7 linked regions of the Homo sapiens genome follow. The protein of the gene in region 6 purifies or fractionates together with the protein of the main gene of each other region. This does not show direct contact. Each region holds a gene or a part of one and is shown on either strand. Other genes may lie near its edges. The genes, in order: TOP3A, LIG3, PARP2, SUPT16H, HMCES, RPA2 and RAD52.

Evidence for each region.
Region 1: the proteins of RPA2 (region 6) and TOP3A purify together in Homo sapiens (affinity purification with mass spectrometry; 4 studies listed by BioGRID and IntAct, with this or other methods). This does not show direct contact.
Region 2: the proteins of RPA2 (region 6) and LIG3 purify together in Homo sapiens (affinity purification with mass spectrometry; 4 studies listed by BioGRID and IntAct, with this or other methods). This does not show direct contact.
Region 3: the proteins of RPA2 (region 6) and PARP2 purify together in Homo sapiens (affinity purification with mass spectrometry; 3 studies listed by BioGRID and IntAct, with this or other methods). This does not show direct contact.
Region 4: the proteins of RPA2 (region 6) and SUPT16H purify together in Homo sapiens (affinity purification with mass spectrometry; 3 studies listed by BioGRID and IntAct, with this or other methods). This does not show direct contact.
Region 5: the proteins of RPA2 (region 6) and HMCES purify together in Homo sapiens (affinity purification with mass spectrometry; 4 studies listed by BioGRID and IntAct, with this or other methods). This does not show direct contact.
Region 7: the proteins of RPA2 (region 6) and RAD52 purify together in Homo sapiens (affinity purification with western blotting; 3 studies listed by BioGRID and IntAct, with this or other methods). This does not show direct contact.

The regions. Positions count from the first base shown.
Region 1 is NC_000017.11:18,283,995-18,287,494, reverse strand, and holds part of TOP3A (DNA topoisomerase 3-alpha), read left to right. Parts: intron 1-1,974; coding exon 1,975-2,088; intron 2,089-2,187; coding exon 2,188-2,353; intron 2,354-3,500. UniProt on the Homo sapiens protein: Releases the supercoiling and torsional tension of DNA introduced during the DNA replication and transcription by transiently cleaving and rejoining one strand of the DNA duplex.
Region 2 is NC_000017.11:34,983,512-34,987,011, reverse strand, and holds part of LIG3 (DNA ligase 3 isoform alpha precursor), read right to left. Parts: coding exon 3,460-3,500; intron 1,025-3,459; coding exon 881-1,024; intron 1-880. UniProt on the Homo sapiens protein: Isoform 3 functions as a heterodimer with DNA-repair protein XRCC1 in the nucleus and can correct defective DNA strand-break repair and sister chromatid exchange following treatment with ionizing radiation and alkylating agents.
Region 3 is NC_000014.9:20,356,020-20,358,404, reverse strand, and holds the end of PARP2 (poly [ADP-ribose] polymerase 2), read right to left. Parts: coding exon 2,374-2,385; intron 2,099-2,373; coding exon 1,971-2,098; intron 1,816-1,970; coding exon 1,716-1,815; intron 1,355-1,715; coding exon 1,256-1,354; intron 1,010-1,255; coding exon 885-1,009; intron 768-884; coding exon 608-767; 3' UTR 501-607; downstream 1-500. UniProt on the Homo sapiens protein: Poly-ADP-ribosyltransferase that mediates poly-ADP-ribosylation of proteins and plays a key role in DNA repair.
Region 4 is NC_000014.9:21,377,520-21,381,019, reverse strand, and holds part of SUPT16H (FACT complex subunit SPT16), read left to right. Parts: intron 1-3,500. UniProt on the Homo sapiens protein: Component of the FACT complex, a general chromatin factor that acts to reorganize nucleosomes. The FACT complex is involved in multiple processes that require DNA as a template such as mRNA elongation, DNA replication and DNA repair.
Region 5 is NC_000003.12:129,295,870-129,299,369, reverse strand, and holds part of HMCES (abasic site processing protein HMCES), read right to left. Parts: intron 1,017-3,500; coding exon 835-1,016; intron 1-834.
Region 6 is NC_000001.11:27,904,576-27,908,075, reverse strand, and holds part of RPA2 (replication protein A 32 kDa subunit), read left to right. Parts: intron 1-793; coding exon 794-895; intron 896-1,034; coding exon 1,035-1,148; intron 1,149-3,500. UniProt on the Homo sapiens protein: As part of the heterotrimeric replication protein A complex (RPA/RP-A), binds and stabilizes single-stranded DNA intermediates that form during DNA replication or upon DNA stress.
Region 7 is NC_000012.12:943,195-946,694, forward strand, and holds part of RAD52 (DNA repair protein RAD52 homolog), read right to left. Parts: intron 1-3,500. UniProt on the Homo sapiens protein: Involved in double-stranded break repair. Plays a central role in genetic recombination and DNA repair by promoting the annealing of complementary single-stranded DNA and by stimulation of the RAD51 recombinase.

The sequences.
Region 1 (3,500 bases), on a different chromosome or scaffold from region 6:
GAGTGTAGTGGCACGATTTCAGCTCACTGCAACCTCCGCCTCCCAGGTTCAAGAGATTCTCCTGCCTCAGCCTCCTGAGTAGCTGGGACTACAGGTGCGCATCACTGGCTAATTTTTGTATTTTTAGTAGAGATGGGGTTTCACTGTTAGCTAAGCTGGTCTCGAATTCCTGACCTCAAATGATCCACCCGCCTCGGTCTCCCAAAGTGCTGGGATTATAGGCCTGAGCCACCATGCCCAGCCAGACTTTTTTGTTTTATGTAGGGACAGGGTCTTGCTATGTTGCCTAGTCTGGTCTTGAACTTGCACCCTCAAACTGTCCTCCTACCTCAACCTCCCAAAGTGTTGGGATTACAGGAGTGAGCCACTGCACCTGGCCAGATTTGCCTACTTTAGTTATTTCCTATAAAGAGCCAGGCACAGTGGCTCACACCTGTAATCCCAGCACTTTGGGAGGCCAAGGTGGGCCAATCACTTGAGGTCAGGAGTTCGAGACCAGCTTCACCAACATGGTGAAACACTTTCTCTACTAAAAATGAAAAAATTAGCTGGGCTTGGTGGCAGGCGCCTGTAATCCCAGCTACTCGGGAGGCTGAGGCAAGAGAATCACTTGAACCCGGAAGGCAGAGGTTGCAGTTGATGGACACTTGAGTTGTTTCTACTCTTTGGCTATTATAAATAATCCTGCTGTGAACAGTTTTGTACAAGGTTTTGTGTGGATATGTGTTTTCATTTCTCTTGGGTAGACTTAGGAGTGGGATTGCTGGTTTACTTGGTAACTCTACATTTAACATTTTTAGGAACCACCAAACTTTTCTGAAGTGGCTGTACCGTTTTTCATTTCCACCAGCAAGGCACTAGGATTCCAGTTTATCCACATCCTTACTAACACTTAGTATTATCTCTCTTTTTGATTTTGCCAGTAGGTCTGAACTGCTATTTCACTGGTTTTTTTGGTTGTTTTTTTGTTGTTATTGTTGAGGTGGAGTCTCGCTCTGTTGCCCAGGCTGGAATGCAGTGGCTCGATCTCCGCTCACTGCAGGCTCCGCCTCCCAGGTTCATGCCATTCTTCTGTGTCAGCCTCCTGAGTAGCTGGGACTACAGGTGCCCGCCACCACACCCGGCTAATTTTTTTTTTTTTTTTTTTGTATTTTTAGTAGAGACGGGGTTTCACCGTGTTAGCCAGGATGGTCTTGATCTCCTGACCTCGTGATCTGCCCGCTTCGGCTTCCCAAATTGCTGGGATTACAGGCGTGAGCCACCACGCCCAGCCCTTTTTTTTTTCTTTTTTTTTTTAAAGAGAGTCTCACTCCATCACCCAGGCTGGAGTGCAACGGTGCCATCTCAGCTCGTTGCAGCCTCTGTCTCCTGGGTTCAAGTGATTCTCCTGCCTCAGCCTCCTGAGCAGCTGGGACTACAGGTGCGTGCCGCCACACCCTGCTAATTTTTGTATTTTTGATAGAGACAGGGTTTCAGCATGTTGGCCAGGCTGGTCTCGAACTCCTGACCTCAGATGATCTGCCCACCTTGGCCTCCCAAAATGCTGGGATTACAGGCATAAGCCACTGCTCCCAGCCTTCACTGCAGTTTTAATTTGCATTTCCTTCATGGCAGAGCTACATTTTGAAAGGTCCCTTTGGCCACAGCTTAAAGAATGGTTAGGGTAGAGGAAGAGACTAGAAATAGGGACACAAGCTGCAAGTATGGCTTGGACACATGGGGAAGAGAATTTTTAAAAAGAGCTTTGAAGCTGGAATTGACAGCTTTCCTGAGTAATGGGATGTGAGGGAACAAGAGAGTTGAGGTTGCCATTGTGATTTCTTGAATGAGCTATATGGGAATGAAATGAAGGCATCTTACCTGCATAGGCTGTCCAGGCAAAGGAGGGATTCCGGGGTGAGCAAGGTGCCCATGCGCCACCCGGGTGGAGCTGTTGTCTGTATTACCTCAGAGTAACCAGCAAGTGGCTTCCAGGTACGGATGCCACTCATGCGGAGCACATCGAGACCATCAAAGCCCGGATGTACGTGGGCCTCACCCCAGACAAGCGGTTCCTCCCTGGGCACCTGGGCATGGGACTTGTGGAAGGTAAGGGAGGACAGAGCTTGCAGTGGGTAGTGGGTGGTGTCGCCCAAGTCCCTGAGGGTCTCAGGTGGGCCCTCACTGAGCTCGACTCTCTCCCTGCAGGTTATGATTCCATGGGCTATGAAATGTCTAAGCCTGACCTCCGGGCTGAACTGGAAGCTGATCTGAAGCTGATCTGTGATGGCAAAAAGGACAAATTTGTGGTTCTAAGGCAGCAAGTGCAGAAATACAAGCAGGTTTTCATTGAAGCGGTGGCTAAAGCAAAGAAGTAAGTCCTTAAAAGAAATACAGAGGGGTCTCACTATGTTGCCCAGGCTGGTCTTGAACTCCTGGCCTCAAGAGATCTTCCCACCTCAGCCTCCCAAAGTGTGGGGATTACAGGCGTGAGCCACCGCATCTGGGCCAGTCAGAGTTTATAACCCTGCCAGATTCATCCTCACCAGTGGCCTCCTGGCCTGGAGGTTTTCCACATACCCCTTTTCTTTGGACTTTCTTCTCTGGGTTCTTTTACAACTCTCCATAGAGCTTTGTCAGTATAGAAACAGTAATCGGAACAGTCTCCTTCAGTTATTCTGAACTATTGGCTTTAGAAATACCATTCTCTTGATTTTAATTATCTTTTTTTTTTCTGCTTTAATTACATGACACATTAATTATCTTGAGTTAGGCAACAAAGTCTTTTAAATCAGTAAACCCAAGTGCTGGAGTGTGATCCATTTGTTTTCTGGAGCATTTAGAGGTGGATATTTAGCAAGCAGCATGTGTGTATTTTGTTAGAAATGATGTGTTTTCTACCTGTGATATTATGATTTATAATAAGATATATATATTTGGACTTCATTTTCTGATACCCTTGGAATTTTTTAAGTGCTGTGTCTGTTGTATACAAATGAGATGACTAGTGGCCAAGGGCTCCTGGGTAGCCTTGGGATCGGTCTGGTTGTCAGGGAACCAACCCTGTGATTAGAAGGTTGGGACTTTGAGTCCCACCCCTACCTCAGGAAGAGCAGAGGGGCTGGAGGTTGAGTTGATCACACGTGGCCAGTGATTTGTCAATCATGCCTAAGTAATAAATCCTCCATAAAATCCCCAAACAAGGGTCAGGCACGGTGGCTCACGCCTGTAATCCCAGCACTTTGGGAGGCCGAGGCGGGTAGATCACAAGGTCAGGAGTTCAAGACCAGCCTGGCCAACACAGTGAAACCCCTTTCTCTGCTAAAAAAAAAAAAAAAAAATACAAAAATTAGCCAGGCATGGTGGTGCGTACCTGTAGTCCCAGCTACCTGGGAGGCTGAGGCAGGAGAACTGCTTGAACCCGGAAGGTGGAGGTTGCAATGAGCCGAGATTGCCCCACTGCAGTCCAGCTTGGGCAACAGAGTGAGACTTCTTCAACAACAACAAAAACAAATCAAACA
Region 2 (3,500 bases), on a different chromosome or scaffold from region 6:
TTGAACCCAGAGCTCACTGATTCCAAAGTCTGCAAGCTTCATCCCTAGGCTGTACTGCCTCCCAACAAATAGCAATATCCTTCAGATCTTTTTTTCCTTCCTTTGTGTTCCATGAAGTTCCAGTGTTTTGAATAAACAGTTTTAAGAATCAAGAAGGGAGATCCATGCATGACATCTCCCTTCTTTCATACTTTCATTTCTAGGCATATTCAGGGAAACAATTTCTCAAAATTCTTTCATTATCAAAACACAAGGAAGTAAAAGACAGGTTCTAATAATCTCTGTCTGGCCCAGGTAACTATTTCAAGGGGAAAAAGTCTTGACAAAACAAATCTTTCCGCTGCGATAGAGGTTAAAGTATACAAAGAAATGCTATACAAGTGGAATGCTGGCCGAGCGCAGTGGCTCACGCCTGCAATCCCAGCACTTTGGGAAGCTGGGGCAGGTGGATCACCTGAGGTCAGGAGTTTGAGACCAGCCTGGCCAACGTGGCGAAACCCCATCTCTACTAAAAATACAAAAATTAGTCAGGCATGGTGGCAGGTGCCTGTAATCCCAGCTACTTGGGAGGCTGAGGTGGGAGAATCGCTTGAACCCAGGAGGCGGAGGTTGCAGTGAGCTGAGAATGCACCACTGCACTCCAGCTTGGATGACAGAGCAAGATTTCATCTCAAAAAAACCCCCAAAACCAAAAAACAAACAAACAAACAAAAACCAAGCGGAAGGCTTAGAATTAGCCATTACCAGTCTCTGCTCAGACAGAAGCAAATTATTAATGAGATGAGATAGCACAGAATTTTCACTCTTTAGCCAGAATCCTAGGTAGAATACAAAATAAAAGCAGCACTATAACAGCTAAAGTAGCCCTAACCTATCTTACCTGAAAAGCCAGAAAATTTCCGGGGATTGGTACTGGTGACAAATGAGGCGCCTTTCACTGGAGAAGTCACCTGGCCAGTGGTTGTCAACTTAGCCTGGACAACAGCTTTCTTCTTTGGTGTACCTGCTGCCTTAGAAGACAGATCTGTAGGATCCCAAAAGAGTATAAAATATCCTTCAGTGAACGATCTCTGAAAAAAACATCCAAAGAATCTATCAACTGCTCCTAGGGCCTTGCTTGTTAAGTCACTACCCTAGCACTAGCCCAAGGCTGGCTGGTGGCTGGTATTTTTTGAGTGGGGGTAGTAGGTAATAGGGTATTGTGGGGACAGAAGGGAAGGATATGCTGGAGACAAAAGATCCAGTTACCATTTATCTCTATTAGTACCTTAAATTTTCATCAACATTCTCCACTTCTTATCCCATATGTAAGTCTCCAGAAATAACAATTTGGGGGAAATCAGAAATCATAGTTTGATGGATAAAACTTAGGGAACCCCCAACCCCACAGAATTAGCTTCAATTTAGAGATGAACAAAAAGTAAATGAGGATCACAGAGCATGTCAACCTAGCATAGGAAGGAAAATTTCCAGATGCTTAGTTATCTGAGTCATGAACTCTACCTGTATTTCTCTTCCTCCAAATGAGAGATGGGTCAAGAAGTAACAAAGGCCGAGGCCAATAGCTAAGGCAGTGCAAGGTGGGATGGGGAGCCTGAGAATAAAGTATATGGGAAGCACAGTTTTCTTTCCCGGAAGTCTTTTTTCCTTTCAAAGAACAAGGACAGATACCCATTTTTAGAGCCATTGTTAACTGTCTTCCTATGGTGACCAGAACTAAGTTGAAGATATGAACATTATTTTACAGACACTGAAGGTCAAAGAGGACTAACTGGATTTGGGGGTATTGGCATAAAATTTCTAAAATATGCATATGTAAATATGCATGTACATGCAAACATGTTATATATAGCCATATATAGGTATGAATTTTACATGCATATACACGCACATATTTTCTAGCTCTGTCTGCTGAAAGGGCTTAGAAACAGACATGCCATGGCTGGGCGCTCAGGCCTGTAATCCCAGCACTTTGGGAGGCCAAGGTGGGTGGATCACTTGAAGTCAGGGGTTCAACACCAGCTGGACCAACATGGTGAAACCCTGTCTCTACTAAAAACACAAAAATTAGCTGGGTGTGGTGTCAAGTGCCTGTAGTCCCAGCTACTTGGGAGGCTGAGACAGGACAATTGCTTGAACCTGGAAGGCAGAGGTTGCAGTGAGCTAAGACAGTGCCACTGCACTCCAGCCTGGGTCACAGAGTGAGACTCTGTCTCAAAAAAAAAAAAAAGAAGAAACAGATACCCCATGACAATGTGTTCACATAGTATCCGGGTTTTACTCTTTAATACCATTTCCCACTAACAGGATAGTGCCACTACACTCCAGCCTGGGTCAGAGTGAGACTCTCAAAAAAAAAAAAAAGAAGAAACAGATACCCCATGACAATGTGGACACATAGTATCCAGGTTTTACTCTTTAACAGGGGCATTTCCCACTAACAGGAATCCCCAGAGAAATTACCAATTTCAGGGCTGGGGAAGGATACATACGGGATAAGACTAAAAGCATCTTGCTATGCTCAAGAGTAAAGAAGTACATTAAAAAAAGTTAATGAAGGTATACAGGACACAGAGGACAGTGTAAAGGGGTTCCTAATTGGCCAAATATGGGACAATTAAGTATCAAATTAGTTAAGTACAGTAATGAATTATATGCTACAAGAAAAAAAGTAAAAGAGGATAGTAATCAGTACTCTATTCTTCCAAAATATCAATGTCATAAAAGAGAGACTATGGAAATATTTCAGATTAAAGGAGGCCAAAGAAACATGACAACTAAATGCAACACCTGATATGATCCTAGACTGGGATCCTATACTGCAGGAAAAGGCTACTGAAGGTATGACTCAATCCATTGACAAAATAGTATACAGATGGTAGATTTAAGTATTACATCAAGGACAAATTTTCTGAAGATGATAGCTATATTATAGTCGCATAAGGGTCATATATCCTATTCTTAAGGTATATACACTGAAGAATTTTAAAGGGCCATGATGTATGCAACTTATTCTCAAATGGTTTAAAGTGAGTGCACGCACACGTGTGTATGTATGTAGAGAGAGACAGCACATGAACAAATATGATAAAGCAAATAGAGTAAAATGTTAATAGGTAAATATGGGTAAAAGGAATATGAATGTTCTTTGTACTATTTTTAATCTTCCAACACTTCAGTGAGTTTAAAATTATTTCCAAATAAAACGTTAAAGGCTGGGCATGGTGGCATGCGCCTGTAATCCCAACTACTTGGGAGGCTGAGTCAGGATGACCTGAGTCCAGCAGTGCAAAGCTGCAGTGAGCTACGAATGCAACATTAAACACTGGCCTAGGCAACAGAGTGAGACCCCATCTCTAAAAGAGCAAAGTTAAAAAAAAGAGAAAGAAAGCAGTTGAACTCCTTATCCCTTTTTCTCTCAGCACCAGTAAGATGAGAAAGCAGTGTTCTCTACCTTACCTGCAATGTGCTGGGTTATCTGTTCCTTCTCATTATCTTCC
Region 3 (2,385 bases), on a different chromosome or scaffold from region 6:
CACAAAGCCTAACCATATCAGGATCTGACCTGGACTTTAGTACTTCTTAGTTGGAGCAGGTTATGTAAAAACTCATTCCACTTTTTTCCTTTCCTCCTCAAGATGTATTCAGGCTTAGTGACAGTCCTCCAAGGGCTTCCCAAATTTTTGGACATGTGATGAGTCCTAGGATGTTGAGTAGTGGGAGACCTAGGCTGCAGTGGATAAATTTGAAAAAGGCAAGTGAATACATATGCATGGGAAAGAAAAACACGACTTAGCCTTTGTTGCCTCTACCCTTCCTGTGATAATACTCAACAAATTCCAGTTTGCAGAAAAATTGAATTAAACAGGTAAAAGCATTAGCGCCCCCATTAGTGTCCCTCAATGCACAGATGCCACTAAGAACAGGATACTGAATAACCCTCAGAGCAATGAGTAATTTCTGTCCTGGAAATGGAGATCTACTAATGTCAGAAGAAATATGTTCTTGGAGAAATAAAGCCCGAAGAAGCCAGTGGTAGACCTGTACAGTTTTTATTACATAAAATATCACAAAATTCACAAGTACAACACTGCTTATTTTCTTGCTTGAAGATCAGATCTCTGGTTTATTTAATATCAACATTCACCACAGCTGAAGGAAATTAAACTGAACCTTTAAAAGGTACCGCATACGGACCTGGTTGGGGTTATATACAATATATTCATTGTAGTTGAGGGTATAACCATCTGGATTCAGAATTCCTGTGTCACTTGCTGGTCCTAATGGCACTGTACTCCCATTCCTGCCAAATGGAAAAAAAGTGTGTCAACATCAGTCTCTGGTTCAGAAGCTGCAATAGAGAACGTAGTCTTATCTGGCCAAAAGGAGTCTTCTAGTCCTCCTGGTTCTGAGTACTTACAGGGTGACGAAGTGGGCAGAACTGGGAGCCATCTTGCCCAGCCCCTTGGTGCTATGTTTACCTTGAAGCAATCCTTCGGCCTTAGGATTGGCCTCTAGTAGTTCATTACACTGACCTAGAGCTACCTGCAAAGCAAAAAACCTTTGAATTCCCATATCCTACTAAGAATTAGATGGCTCCAAAGCCAAACAGAAAATCCCATCAGTACTTTTTTCCCCTACTCCAGCAGAGGAATCCAATGTACTAGAAATTGTACTTGGTCCTCTCTCAAGCTATCCCAGGTAAACCTCTTGGTTCTGGGGTCAAACTTTTCTCATCGGAAAAAAACTGGAATTAATAAACTAGAGATCACAGACATACTCCTGTCTCACCTCTGATAAGAGCAGCAGTCCTGTATTCTTTAGGCGAGAGGCAAAGCAGTAATTGGCACTCTTGGAAGACATGTCAGCAAAGTAGATTCCTTTCCCAAACTGAAATATATACATGAATACCAAGGTCAGCTTCTAACCCACTGTGTTAGAGAGAAGGTGCATACCACTGACCCTGTTTTTCCATTCCCTTAAACACAATATAGACCCTTCTCCATTTCCCCTCACAATTCTGTTCTAGAGAGGGTAGAAGCCCCTGTGAATTTCCGCCTTCTGAGGGAAAGGTGAGGTATCTTTAGGAATTTAAAGAAAGAGGGACACAGTAAGAGATGACAAGGTTATCAGTGAGCTGGCTTAACTCTTGGGGAGGGGAACCATCTAATCCTAATCTAGGAAAAAAAGCACTGAGAACATTACTGTATCCCTTTCCCCTGTGCTCCTCCCAGAGTTCAATTTCACTCACCATGTAACCTGTGATGGGAGCTTCAGGTGGGGCAATTCGAAGCCCATGGCTCAAGATTCCCACCCAGTTACTCATCCTGGAACCATGCCATAGAAGCATCCTAAGGAAAAGCCAATATTATTGTACTCTGTTGTTCTGCACAGATAGGCCATAAGCATAAAAAAGCCAACACCTTCCTCTGACTCCCTCTTATAAGTTCTACAGCTGTACTTTCGGGCAAGGAGTGTCTTTCCAAACGCAAAGCTAGACTCAGACCTGTTATGAAGGTCCTCTCTGAAGGCTTCTTTCTCACCATCCTTCTCCACTTCAAACAAATCCAGCAAGGTCATGGTATAGTCGCTGTGTGTGGGAGCATGGGTAGATTGTAGGTACTGGGAAATCACCTGTGAAAAATAAGACAAAAAGGCTGATGTAGACTCTACAAGAGACTGAGCTGAACTGAAGAATTTGGGGATTCTGATATAACTTGGCAGACCTTTCTGCTCCCAAACAGTCTTACAAGGCAGCTAGGAAAAGCTTGGCCTTCCCAAATCCCTAGTACATAAAAAGTCTGCCCTAATTGACAATTTGCTCTTGACAAGAAGTAGTTAGAGAACAGTGGGATGGGGGAGGTGGTTAAGGGTGCAAGAATATGAAAATAAATGATCATTTTTCTTACTTTGAACTCATA
Region 4 (3,500 bases), on a different chromosome or scaffold from region 6:
TGTATTATTAGAATATCGCAGGTGGTAGTGGTGGTTCCTGGAAATGGGCTGCATGTTTCTTTGTCCTCTTATGCCTACTAGATCCTTCTTCAGGGATTGCCAGCCTTTTCATGATTACGATTATTTTTAACCAAGTAATATGATTAGTGCTGGTCATTGGGAGAAACAAAAGAGGTTATCTACCATCCCAGGGTTCCAGCTGCCTTGAGGGCTGAGTGGTACAATATCCAGGCATATCTGTATATCATTTGAGACCTACCTGTTGGGACATTCTGATATGAGTGGACCTTGACTTCATCTGCCTTTTTTCTTGAAGAATTCCATAAAATGTCAAAAATATTTGTTTTCAGAAGGAATACTCACATTCTTGTGAGCATACACCAACTGTCAGGATTGGGGTAGTGGAAGACTGACCCCAAAGAAATTTTATGCCTTTGAAGAAACTAATGAATTAAAGTGTCAGTGCTTCTCTTGAGTGGAGCTTTCTGGCTCTTTGCAGATTTTTATGGTGGCTTAGTTTCTTGTTCTGGGTTGTTCTATTAAGATTCAACAGCTATGTTCTGTGGCTCAGGAAGGATTTTAAAAAATACATAGTAGCTTATGCCTGTATAATCCCAGCTACTCCAGAGGCTGAGGTGGAAGGATTGCTTGAGTCCAGGAGTTCAAGACCAGCCTGGGCAACATAGTGAGAGAGAGCCCATTTCTTTAAAAAAAAAAAAAAAATTCAGTCTTCCATCAGTATCTGTCAGGGATTGCTTCCAGGACATACCTAGATACCTAAATCAAAGGATGCTCAAGTCTCTGATAACAAAATGGCATATTTGCATAGCCTATGTATATCCTCCCATTATTTTTTATTTCTAGATTACTTATAATACCGAATATAGTGTAAGTGCATGTAAATAATAGTTATACTTATTTTTTAGGGGGTAATGACATAGAAAAATGTTTGGCCATTTTAATTTTCAGTACACAGTTGAATCCACAGATAAGGAGAGCCAGCTGTATAGGCATTTCCTGTTATTTCAGTCAGGCAGTGGATTACTTCCACTCACACTCAGCTCTTAATAGCTCCTTTATCTCTGGAGTGGGATAGAGAAAGGTTTTTTTGTTTGTTTGTTTGTTTGTTTGTTTGTTTTTTGAGTTTCACTCTGTGGCTGAGGCTGGATTGCAATGGCACAATCACTGCTCACTGCAGCCTCAACCAAACCAGCCTCAGGTGATCTTCCCACCTCAGCCTCCTGAGTAGCTAGGACCACAGGTGCATGCCACAACACTTGACCAATTTTTATTATTATTATTATTGTTATTTATTTTATTGTATTTTTTGTGGAGACAGGGTTCCACCGTGTTGTCCCAGGCTGGTCTCAAACTCATGGGCTCAAGCGATCCGCCCACCTCGGCATCCCAAAGTGCTGAGATTGCAGGTGTAAGTCACTGCACCTGGCCAAGAAACTTTTTAATAATGCTGAGTAAGGAGGGTTAGATGGAAATAAATGCCCAGATGGATTGAGATTTTTTTTTAAATATTGCTTACTCAGCTTTTATAGTCTAGTTCTCTACTTTTTTTTTTTTTTTCTTTTTTTGAGACAGTCTGACTGTGCCACCCAGGCTGGAATGCAGTGAAGCATTCTCAGCTCACTGCAACCTCTGCCTCCCGGGATCAAGCAATTCTCGTGTCTCAGCCTCCTGAGTAGTTGAGATTACAGGTGTGTGCCACCATGCTCGGCTAATTGTTGTATTTTTCGTAGAGATGGGGTTTCACCATATTGGCCAGGCTGGTCTCTAACTCCTGGCCTCAAGCAATCCACCCACCCCAGCCTCCCAAAGTGCTGGGATTACAGATATGAGCCATCACACCCAGCCCTAGATCTCTACTTTTTATATTTACTTTTTATCCCTATTAACAACTACAGTGCCTGGCATATAGAAGTCACTCAGTGAACAGTGGTAACTGATTATATGGGTATTTAGCTACAACCAGACTGCAAAAATACTTTCTTTTTTTAAGGCAGTATCAGTTTGGTTCAAAGGAAGATAGTTGTTCTGCTGCTGCACTATTTCTCCAACTTTTATCATCCAGATACCACCTTCACAATTTTTGCAGATTCTTTGCCACCTGTTTTATATTTTATTTAACTCTCACTTTCAAAATTATTTTAATCAGTAATAGATATAGTTTTTTAAAAGTCATAGTTCTAATAAAAGCCTTAAAACAAAAAGTCACCTATCCCAGAGGCAACCACTTTGAGTTTTTTGTTTCTTTCATATTTCTAAATAATATCTATATATACTGCTATTTCTTGATTTGTGAATTTTTAACGGTTATTAACTTATGGTAAATCTGAATTTAACTTCTTTGTGTCATCACACTCATTCCAACTTCCCTACCTCCTGATACCTTAACATTTTTCTCCTGACACATTGATATGAAAAATTTTAAAGACAGAAAAGTTGAAAGAATTTTAAGTAAACCCTTTATACCCACCACCCCACACAGTTAACATTTTGTTGTACTTGCTTTATCACACATCCATCCTTCTTCATAACTTTTCCCCACAATTTTTAGTAAAATAAGTAGTTACTATTTACATTGTTTATGTTCATATAGATGTTTTCACTGCTGGGTGAAGTAATAAAGTATGATTAACTTTCCTTTTTTTCTACAGTTTTTTATTTTTCCTGGCATTAATGATTTCCTCAGTTTTTCTCCTTTAAAAAAAGTCTCCCTAGCCTTAATTTTTTCCAATAAATCTATTATAATGTTACCAGTCTTTTATTCTAAATTTCTCACACTCATAGAATTTTCTTCTGTTTCTTAAGAGCAACCTCACTCCCCACTTCCACCCCCCACATTATCCTGTTACCAGTCTTTTATTCTAAATTTCTCACACTCAGAATTTTATTCTGTTGCTTAAAAGCAACCTCACTCCCCACTTCCACCCCCCACATTATCCTGCTCCATCTGTATAGGTTACTCTTTAGGCCTGTTGAACCTCGGGACTTTGCAATATTGGGTCCCCTATATCCAAGAGCCTCTGCTTTGTTTTTTCTTTAGCACATTTTCTCTAAGAACTTCGTAAGAAAAGATGGGCCAGGCGCAGTGGTTCATTCACGCCTGTAATATCAGCATTTTGGGAGGCCGAGGTGGGCAGATCACTTAAGGCCAGGAGCTCAAGACTACCCTGGCCGACATGGCGAAACCCCATCTCTACTAAAAATACAGAAATTAACCAGGCATGGTGCCACATTCCTGTAATGCCAGCTACTTAGGAGGCTGAGGCACGAGAATCGCTTGAACCCAGGAGGCAGAGGCCACAGTGAGCTGAGATCGTGCCATTGCACTCCAACCTGGGCAACAGAGTGAGACTGTGTCTCAAAAAAAGAATAAATAAAAAGCTCACCACTAGCTCCACTGTAACCCCATGCAAAAAAAAAAAAAAGGATGCATAGAATATAAATGTCTTCAGCCCTTGCATGTCTTAAAGTGCTAGTTTGCC
Region 5 (3,500 bases), on a different chromosome or scaffold from region 6:
GCATGCCTCAAAGGAAATACGTTCATAGGAGGAAAACTGTGCCCCAGGATTTAAGACTGCAAAAGATAAAAAATTTTACATAACCTTCCTTCCACAACTTCACAATAACTCATGAGATGCATTTCTTCCAACACTCACTTCCACAAGCAACAAGCAAACTTCAGGTCTTGTCGAGGTAAAGTGCCATATTTATTGTAGTATGTATGTATGTATGTATTTATTGAGATGGAATCTCACTCTGTCACCCAGGCTGGGGTGCAGTGGCACGATCTTGGCTCACTGCAAGCTCCACCTCCCGGGGTCACACCATTCTCTTGCCTCAGCCTCCCATGTAGCTGGGACTACAGGAGCCCGCCACCATGCCCGGCTAATTTAGTTGTTGTATTTTTAGTAGAGACGGGGTTTCACCGTGTTAGCCAGGATGGTCTCGATCTCCTGACCTCGTGATCCACCCACCTCAGCATCCCAAAGTGCTGGGATTACAGGCGTGAGCCACCGTGCTCAGCCTGTAGTATTTATTTATTTCTTAACCACCTAACATGTATAAAACAGTGCTACTGTTTTATTAGGTTTCCATTATTTTTTTAATGTGTCACTGACAACATTTTAAGTGTTGTCTCCTTAACCCCACTTTTCCCCTAAGTTATTTGGTTTTTATTCTATCGTTTTGCATAGTACAGTGATTTTTAGGAATGTATGTCATGTTAGAGTCAAACTGATTGTAACTTTACGTTGTAAAATGACTTGGTTTCCTACTCTCTAAAGCTACCTAAAAGCAGAGGACAAATCATCTTTTGGATCCTTTTGGATCCAGGGCTAAGAAGTATGACTTGCCTGTGGTGGATGTCACTCAAGCCTTTGCAGGAATCCACTGTGATGATGGTATAGGAATACAGGACATCTCCTCCCTCTGGGGGCTCCCAGCAGTCAAAGATCCCGGCCATTGTCAGCAGCCTCCAGTTGTCCCAGACTTTCTCCCAGTTCTCAGGACTATCTGCAGCACCAATGCTACCTGACTGGAAGCAAAATATATGGGCAGATTAGATGCACTCAGCAGACTTCTTCTACATGCAGGTTAGGTACTACTTCAGACTCGAGAGCACGGAAATCATTTTAAAAGTAATTCAGCCCACGTCTTATTAACCCCTCTGTCACCAAAGGAAAGAAGGTTGGTGGCAAATGCCAACTGAAGCTATAGATTCATGGCTCCTTAATACTTTCAGAATTTAACACCTTCACTGGACATTTAGGCCTTCCGTGAACTGGCCCACCATTCTAGCTATTACTTACATTGTTAATTTGAACCCAAACCAGCTGTTGGTAAATGAAGCTCTCATGCAATTTCATGCTCCTGTGTCTTGCTGAAGCAACCTTCCTCTGCCCAAAATGTCCTTCCCACCCTTTCTTAATTGAATTGAATTTCATGCCAATTCCTAATTGCCATTCAAAATTCAATTCAAGGACTAAAATGTAGAAAGCTGGAAAGAACGTCACTTCTATTCTAACAATAAGAAAAAAGCTGGATAATATGCAAAATTATAACTTTTCTTAAACTCATCAGAGAGGTAAGTCGATCAATTTCCCTGAAATTTAAGAAAAGACAAGGTCCTCCAAGGGGCAATGGGACACAAGTACTGGCTTATTGGCAGCATCAGGAGGGAGACACAAGCCTTCATACAACCAGGTTAAGAATTCAGATAATGTTATTATCACATTTCTACAAGCAGCGTACAGGCTAGCAGGATAGTACAGAATCCCTAGGAGCTGCAAACCTCAGAGGAGTTTGCACCAGCTCACAGGCTTTTCTCCTTGGACTTTGCCAGTGCTCGAAAAAGACGGCACAGGGCAGGAGCCTGGAGGAAGCCATCCTCACTGTTGAATACCTTAAAGGCAAGCTCCTCTGCCTCACCTAATCACTTTTCCCCTAAGGAGCAAAAGTCTTAAGCTGCCAGGGAAACGGTAATAATAATAATCCCTGTCACGCCTAGGAATCAGGTAAAGACCCACAGAGGCTGGGGAAGGAGAAAAAGAAAAAGCCCCCTACGCCCTGGGGAAGACTGAGTCAGAGAGCCACATCTGCTTAAGATAGACTGAACGGAGAACTGCCTCCACCCGTTTAGCCGACAAACATTAAGTGACAAGCAGAAGCAGTCTACTTCTGGAAGAGGGAAAAGGGCACAAGAAAGACCATGTCTAAGGCACAGGCTCACAGGAAAATCCAACAACTGAAGAGAGGAGGGCTGCTGAGAAACCCTCTGGAAAGTCAATCCTTACCCTAAACACTGGATAACACCAGAGCACTTGAAAGCCTGTGTCAAACAAAGGCACTGTAGCCTGGTCGTGGTGGCTCATGCCTGTCATCCCAGCACTTTGGGAGGCCGAGGCAGGCGGATCACGAGGTCAGGAGATCGAGACCATCCTGGCTAACACGGTGAAACCCCGTCTCTACTAAAAATACAAAAAATTAGCTGGGCCTGGTGACGGGCGCCTGTAGTCCCAGCTACTCGGGAGGCTGAGGCGGAGCTTGCAGTGAGCCGAGATCGCACCACTGCACTCCAGCCTGGGCAACAGAGGGAGACTCTGTCTCAAAAACAAAAACAAAAACAAAACAAAGGCACTGTAATGAGAACAAAGCCCAAACCCAGTTCAATTCCTGACAAGACTGACTTAACCCCATATATTAATGGCCTAATAGAAGAATTTCCAGACATAAATATTATTAATCTCAGTCTCTGTCCTACATATCATCTCTGGCAACAATAAAAAATTACAAGACACACAAAAAAAGCTAAAGCAATCAACCACCAAGAGATATAGAAATTAACAGAACCAGATTCAAGAGATTATATTTCCCAGATGCTGAAATTATCAGAGAACTTGAAGTAAGTAAAATTAATGTCAAAGACTCTTGTGGAAAATGTGGACAACATATATGAACAGATAAGGAACGTTAGCAGAGAGACAGAAACTATAAGAAAGACTCAGTGAACTTAAAGATAGGTCAATAATGGCCAGGCGCAGAGGCTCATGCCTGTAATCCCAATACTCTGGGAGGCCAAGGCAGGCAGATCACTTGAGGTCAGGCGTTCAAGACCCACCTGGCCAACCTTATCAAACCCCGTCTCTACTAAAAATACAAAAAAAATTAGCTGGGCATGGTGGTGCATGCCTGTAATCCCAGCTATTTGGGAGGCTGAGGCAGAATTGTTTGAACCTGGGAAGTAGGGGTTGCAGTGAGCCAAGATTGCACCACTGTACTCCAGCTTGGGTGACAGAGCGAGACTTCATCTCAAAAAAAGAAAAAAAACGGTCAGTGAAAAGTATCTAAACTGAAACAGAGAAGAAAAAAAGAAAGAAAAATGGAGAGAATATCCAAGAACGATGGTACAATTAAATCATCTAACACATGTGTCATTAGAATCCCAGAAAGAGAAAATGGGGCAGAAGAAATATTTGAAGAGGAAAAAGCCAAGAAATTTCCATAAATTATGAAAGATATC
Region 6 (3,500 bases):
AGATCACCTGAGGTCAAGAGTTCCAGACCAGCCTGGCCAACATGGTGAAACCCCATCTCTACTAAAAATGCAAAATGCTGGCACATATAGTCCCAGCTACTCAGGAGGCTGAGCCAGGAGAATCGCTTGAGCCCGGGAGACGGAGGTTGCAGTGAGCTGAGATCACGCCATTGCATGCCAGCCTGGACAACAGGAGCGAAACTCTGTCTCAAAGAAAAAAAATTTAAAAAGATGTCCAACATGGCCAAGCTCTTACTCCATTTCCCCAGGAGCTCCATTTGATAGTCAAAAAATCTGTCCTACAAGAAGCTATTCTTCTACCTTTTACAGTTCATCACAAGACCTACAAGCAATTCCAAAGTCCTGTCTCCATTAGTCATTTCTCAAACCTTTTCCCAATACCATCTCATTTTGTCAGTGACCTGAACAGCAGCACCAGCCTGTCTACACCCTAAAGCTGGGGTTTCCTCTTGAAGGTCTGTTCTGGCAGCAGCAGGTCATTCTTCCTTATCCTGTCCCCCACTCTGACCTATTCATTTTGGTGAATTCTCAGAGCAACATGTGTATCTATTCAGCAGGAGCTCTGGAGTTAGACAAACCTGGGTTTGGATTCTAAAAGTGTGGTATTGGTTTGCTATATGACCTTGGTTTCCATCTCTCTGAAGCAAGGATAATGAGATTTGTTTTGAAATTCAATGTTCTAATATATTTAAAGTACTTGGCACATGGCAGGTGTTGAATGAGTGGTAGTTATTACTTTCTTAATTGAATTTTGCATGTTTTTTCTTTTCAGAGAGCCCGAGCCCAGCACATTGTGCCCTGTACTATATCTCAGCTGCTTTCTGCCACTTTGGTTGATGAAGTGTTCAGAATTGGGAATGTTGAGATTTCACAGGTATGTCAAATAATTTGTGAAAGAATCACTTACTCATAATAAAGAATGAAATAAGACTTCATTAAAAAATACAAAAATGTAGCCTTGGTTTCAGGGGGAACCAGACCTTTTTTTTTTTTCTTTGTTTCTTCTAACCTAGGTCACTATTGTGGGGATCATCAGACATGCAGAGAAGGCTCCAACCAACATTGTTTACAAAATAGATGACATGACAGCTGCACCCATGGACGTTCGCCAGTGGGTTGACACAGATGTAAGTGGCTGTTTTTGAATCATGATGGGGTTACTTTGGAACTGTGGAGATGTTGAACTTTTTTAGTCTTTTTAAAGTTTTTTCTTATAAAAATAATACAAAAAGACATCAAAGACAGATACTCTAAAGTAAAAGGTTAGTAGATTTGACTATATACCTTCCCAATATACCAAAAACAGAATTAAAAGTCAAATGACAGGAGACAGTAGAATGTTAAGTTCCATTAGAACAAAGTTTTTTTTGAGACAGAGTCTCACTCTGTCGCCCAGGCAGTGCAGTGGTGGAATCTCGGCTCACTACAACGTCCGCATCCCGGGCTCAAGCGATCCTGTGCCTCAGCCTCCCAAGTAGCTGGGATTACAGGCACCTGCCACCACGCCCGGCTAATTTTTGTATTTTTACTAGAGATGGGGTTTCACCATCTTGGTCAGGCTGGTCTTGAACTCCTGACCTTGTGATCCACCTACCTTGGCCTCCCAAAGTGCTGGGATTATTACAGGCTTGAGCCACCACACCCAGCCCCTGCTTTTTTGTTTGTTTGTTTGTTTGGTTTTTTTTTTTGAGACAGAATCTTGTGCTGTCACCCAGGCTGGAGTGCAATGGCGCAATCTCAGCTCATTGCAGCCTCTGGGCCCCAGGTTCAAGCAGTTCTCCTGCCTCAGCCTCCCAAGTAGCTGGGATTACAGGCACCCGCCACCACACCTAATTTTTTGTATTTTTAGTAGAGATGGGGTTTTGCCATGTTGGCCAGGCTAGTCTCAAACTCCTGACCTCAGGTGATCCACCCTCCTCAGCCTCTCAAAGTGATTGGATTACAGGCATGAGCCCTCACGCCCGGCCTAGAACAAAGATTTTTATCTTGGTCACCGCTGTAGCCTTAGCACCTAGAGCAGTGCTAGTCACATAGTGGTCCTGGAATAAGTATTGTTTAAATGAATGTGGAAAATATTTGCAACATATTACAAACATTTAAATTTTTAATTAATATAAAGCTCCTTTTTGGCTTGGCATGGTGGCTCACGCCTGTAATCCCAGCACTTTGGGAGGCCGAGGTGGGCGGATCACGAGGTCAGGAGATCAAGACCATCCTGGCTAACACGGTAAAACCCTGTCTCTACTAAAAATACAAAACATTAGCCGGGTGTGGTGGCAGGCGCCTGTAGTCCCAGCTCCTCGGGAGGCTGAGGCAGGAGAATGGCATGAAGCTGGGAGGCGGAGCTTGCAGTGAGCCAAGATTGCGCCTCAAAACAAAAAAAGACAAACAGTGGTGACCTAGCAGAACTCCACAGCTTAGGAGTTTACATCAAGGAAAGAATTAAAGACAGGTACAAAGATTTAGGCCAGTGAAGTGGCTCACGCCTGTAATCGCAACACTTTAGGAAGCCAAGGCAGGCAGATCACCTGAGGTCAGGAGTTCGAATCCAGCCTGGCCAACAGGTGAAACTCCGTCTCCTAAAAATACAAAAATTAGCCGGGCGTGGTTCTGCGCACCTATAATCCCAGCTACTCAGGAGGCTGAGGCAGGAGAATTGCTTGAACCTGGGAGGCAGAGGTTGCAGTGAGCCGAGATCATGCCACTGCACTCCAGCCTGGGCGACAGAGCAAGACTCTGTCTCAAAATGAATAAATAAAAATAAAGCAATCTCAAAATACTAGCAATAAAGGATTATTAAGTAAACCATGACACATTTATAACATACTACAAATGATACAGAAAAGCGTGTATTGCCACAAAGAAGTGTTTGCCATAAATTGTTGAGAAAAGCATATTACAATGTGGTATGCAGGATTTGACCCAATTTTTACAAAGCAGCATATATATAAGTGTCTTTATAAACATGGATAAAATAGACTGAAATACAGTATATACTTTTTATCCTTTTATTTTTCAATTGTGCAGAAGGCCTCTTGGTGTTTTGTATTTTGTTTTTGAAATACATTCATTACAGAAAATTTGGATAATAAAGACTGTTTTAGGCTGGGCATGGTGACTCACGCCCGTAATCCCAGCACTTTGGGAGGCCAATGCTGGCGGGTCACCTGAAGTCAGAAGTTTGAAACCAGCCTGGCCAACGTGATGAAACTCCATCTCTACTAATGATACAAAAATGAGCTGGGTGCCTGTAATCCCAGCTACCCAGAAGCTGAGACAGAAAAATTGATTGAACCTAGGAGACAGAGGTTGCAGTGAGCCAAGATTGCGCCACTGCACTCCAGCAGATTGCGCACTGCTCTGTTGCTCTGGGCAACAGAGCAAGACTGACTCAAAAAAAAAAATGCGGTTCTCCTTCAAAAACCACAAGTTATCTATAGAGAAATAACTTGGTAGTTATGTAATTTTTAAATTTTTTC
Region 7 (3,500 bases), on a different chromosome or scaffold from region 6:
GAACTCTCATACACTGTTGGCAGGAAACAGGCTGATAAAACCACTCAGCTGTTAATGCACACTACTCTTCATGAAAACCAAAGGCCGACTCCAAGGACGGAGCCACACGTCCAGGGAGTAGAGCAGCAGAGGCCCAATCCCAGGCCTGGAGCCCTACTGGTTTTTTGAGACGAAGTCTTGTTCAGTCGCCCAGGCTGGAGTGCAGTGGCACAATCTCGGCTCACTGCAACCTCCATCTTCCTGACTGAAGCAATTCTCCAGCCTCAGCCTCCCGAGTAACTGGGACTACAGGCACGTGCCATCACGCCCAGCTAATTCTAATTCTTGTATTTTTAGTAGAGATGGGGTTTCACTATATTGCTCAGGCTGGTCTCGAACTCCTGAGCTCAAGTGATCCCCCCGCCTCGGCCTCCCAAAGTGCCAGGATTACAGACGTGAGCCACCGCGCCTGGCCTATTAGTTCTTTATTTATCTTGAATATCAGTCTTTTGTCAAATAGGTCCCTGTGTTTCCCCATTCATTTTCTTAGAGTAGTCTGTGATTACATTTTGATGTAATCAATCATATTTATCTTTGTGTGTGTGGTTTTTTTTTTGGGTTTTTTTTGCTTTTTTAAGTGACTCTGGCATCCTGAGCCCTAAGAAACCTTTGCACACACTCAGGTCATGAAGATATTCTTCTCATCTTCTTCCAGAAGCCTCACGGTTTTCTAATTTTGAAAATAGGTCTGGGCGGGGCCCGCTGGGTGCAGTTGCTCACACCTGTAATCCCAGCACTTTGGGAGGCTGAGGCAGGCGGATTGCATGAGGTGAGGAGTTCAAGACCAGCCTGGCCAACATCATGAAACTCCATCTCTACAAAAAATACAAAAATTAGCTGGGCCTGGTGGAATGTTCCCGTAGTCCTAGCTACTCAGGGGGCTGAGGTGGAAGGCTTGCTTCAGCCTGGAAGGTAGAGGCTGCAGTGAGAAGAGATCACCCCACTGCACTCCAGCCTGGGTGACAGAACGAGACTGTCTCAAAAAAAAAGAAAGAAAGAAATTAAGTAGCCAGGAGTGGTGGCTCACGCCTGTAATCCCAGCACTTGAGGCTGAAGTGGAAGGATCGCTTGAGGCTCAGGAGTTCAAGACAAGCCTAGGGAACATGGCTGTCTCTACAAGCAGCAAAACGTTAGTCGGGCATGGTGGAGCATGCCGGCAGTCCCAGCTACTCAGGAAGCTGTGGTGGGAGGATCACTTGAGCGGGGGCGAGGAAGGGGTCAAGGCTGCAGTGAGCCATGATCATACCACTACACTCCAGCCTGGGCAACAGAGGAAGACCCTGTCTCAAAAAAGAAAGAAAGAAATTAAATATGTATCTGTCATATGATCCCAAAATTCTGATAGGTGTTTTCCCAGAGGAAATAAAAACATGGTAAAAAAAAAAAAAAAAAAAACTCAGGGGTAGAAGGGAGAGAGCCTGGACTAGGATAGTGGCTATGGCAAGAAATCATGAATTCAAGATATTAAAAAGGTAAAGACTGGCAAAGATGTTTTATTCTTCTCCATTTCCTTATCACCTAAAAGCATTTTTCTTTCTTTTTTTTTTTTTTTGAGGAGTCTCACACTGTTGCCCAAGCTGCAGTGCAATGGCACAATCTCGGCTCACAAAACCATTTCTTATTATATGTGGAGGGCTGAAGAAGCATGTCAGGTGGACTCTGGATATACAGATCAAGAGGGAGATGTGACAAGGTGATGGGTGAGATTCTGACTGTGAAGGTCAAGAACGGCTTGATGAACAAGACTGGAGCAAGTTTCTTTTATTTTCATTTATGAACACAGTACTATAATGTTCATGAAACTTTAAAAAAATTAGCAAAAGTAGAAAAAAAGTGGCCAGGCACGGTGGCTCACATCTGTAATCTCAGCACTTTGGAAGGCCAATGCAGACAGATCACCTGAGGTCAGGAGTTCAAGACCAGCCCGGCTAACATGATGAAACCTCTTCTCTACTAAAGATACAAAAATTAGCTGGGCATGGTGGCAGGTGCCTGTAATCTCAGCTCCTCAGGAGGCTAAGGCACAAGAATCGCTTGAATCCAGGAGGCGAAGGTTGCAGTGAGCCAAGATCGCACCACTGCACTCTAGCCTGAGCAAGAGTGAGACTCTGTCTCAAAAAAAAAAAGTAGAAAAAAAATTTTTAATTGAAATCTCAAAATGTCATTACCTCTAAAGCCTTATGCAGCTCACCACACTCTGAAGTATGTCTTTTTTTTTTTGAGGGGGAGACACTCTGTTGCCCAGGCTGGAGTACAGTGGCGCAATCTCAGCTCACTGCAACCTCCACCTCCCAGGTTCAAGTGATTCTGGTGCCTCAGCCTCCTGAGTAGCTGGAACTACAGGCATGCGCGACCACACCCAGCTAATTTTCTGTACTTTTAGTAGAGGCAGGGGTTTCACCATGTTGGCCAGGCTGGTCTCGAACTCCTGACCTCAGGTGATCTGCCCACCTCGGCCTCCCAAAATGCTGGGATTACAGGCATAAGCCACCACACCTGGCCTGAAGTAAGTCTTAAAATTTGTGGGAACCCAGTAATCCCAGCACTTTGGGAGGCCGAGGCAGGCAGATCATGAGGTCAGGAGTTCGAGACCAGCCCGGCCAACATGGTGAAACTCCGTCTCTACTAAAAATACAAAAATTAGCTGGGCACGGTGGCGGGTACCTGTAATCCCAGCTACTCGGGAGGTTGAGGCAGGAGAATCGCTTGAACCTGGGAGACGGAGGTTGCAGTGAGCCGAGATCACGCCACCGCACTCCAGCCTGGGCGACAAGAGTGAAACTCCGTCTCAAAAAAAACAAAAAAACACGGTGGGAACATAGGATTAATTCCCTCACACTGATCATTTCTCTGCACTCCCACACTCAGCCATTAGAGAACTGCGGGGCCATACACTAATCACTGAATCCCCAACACTCAGCACAGTCCCCACTCAGCACATAGTATGAAGAGCATTTTAGCCTTATTTTAGCTTCTCTCCACATCAAAACTGCCAGTTCAATATTAAAAATGAGTGCCTTGAGTGAAGAAATGCTAAAAGCTGCAGAGATGGAAAAATATCCACTAGGCTTTCTGCCCTTGAAGCACTACTGAGACAGTCAGTTCTCATTATTCAGGGTAGTTATGTCCTGTAAAGCCATCATGAACACTGAACTAGCAAATACTGAGCCACTGCTCCCAGGGGAAATACAGGGTTACTCAACAGGCCAATACATAACCTTGTTTTATGTGTGCTTCTGTTTAAAGATATCTTATTTAATATATATTGTTGATGCAGTAACATGAACTCACAGCCAACAACAAAAGTGATGCCTGAACAAAGCTAATCTAAAAGCTTATCTTTTCTCTATAAGATATATCACAGCCTTCAACTTGGAAATGCTAGACAGCACTTCTATTCTTGGAGGCCCCTATAAACAGCAAAATCACCAAAAGCACAAAAATACAAAAAAACATGGCAC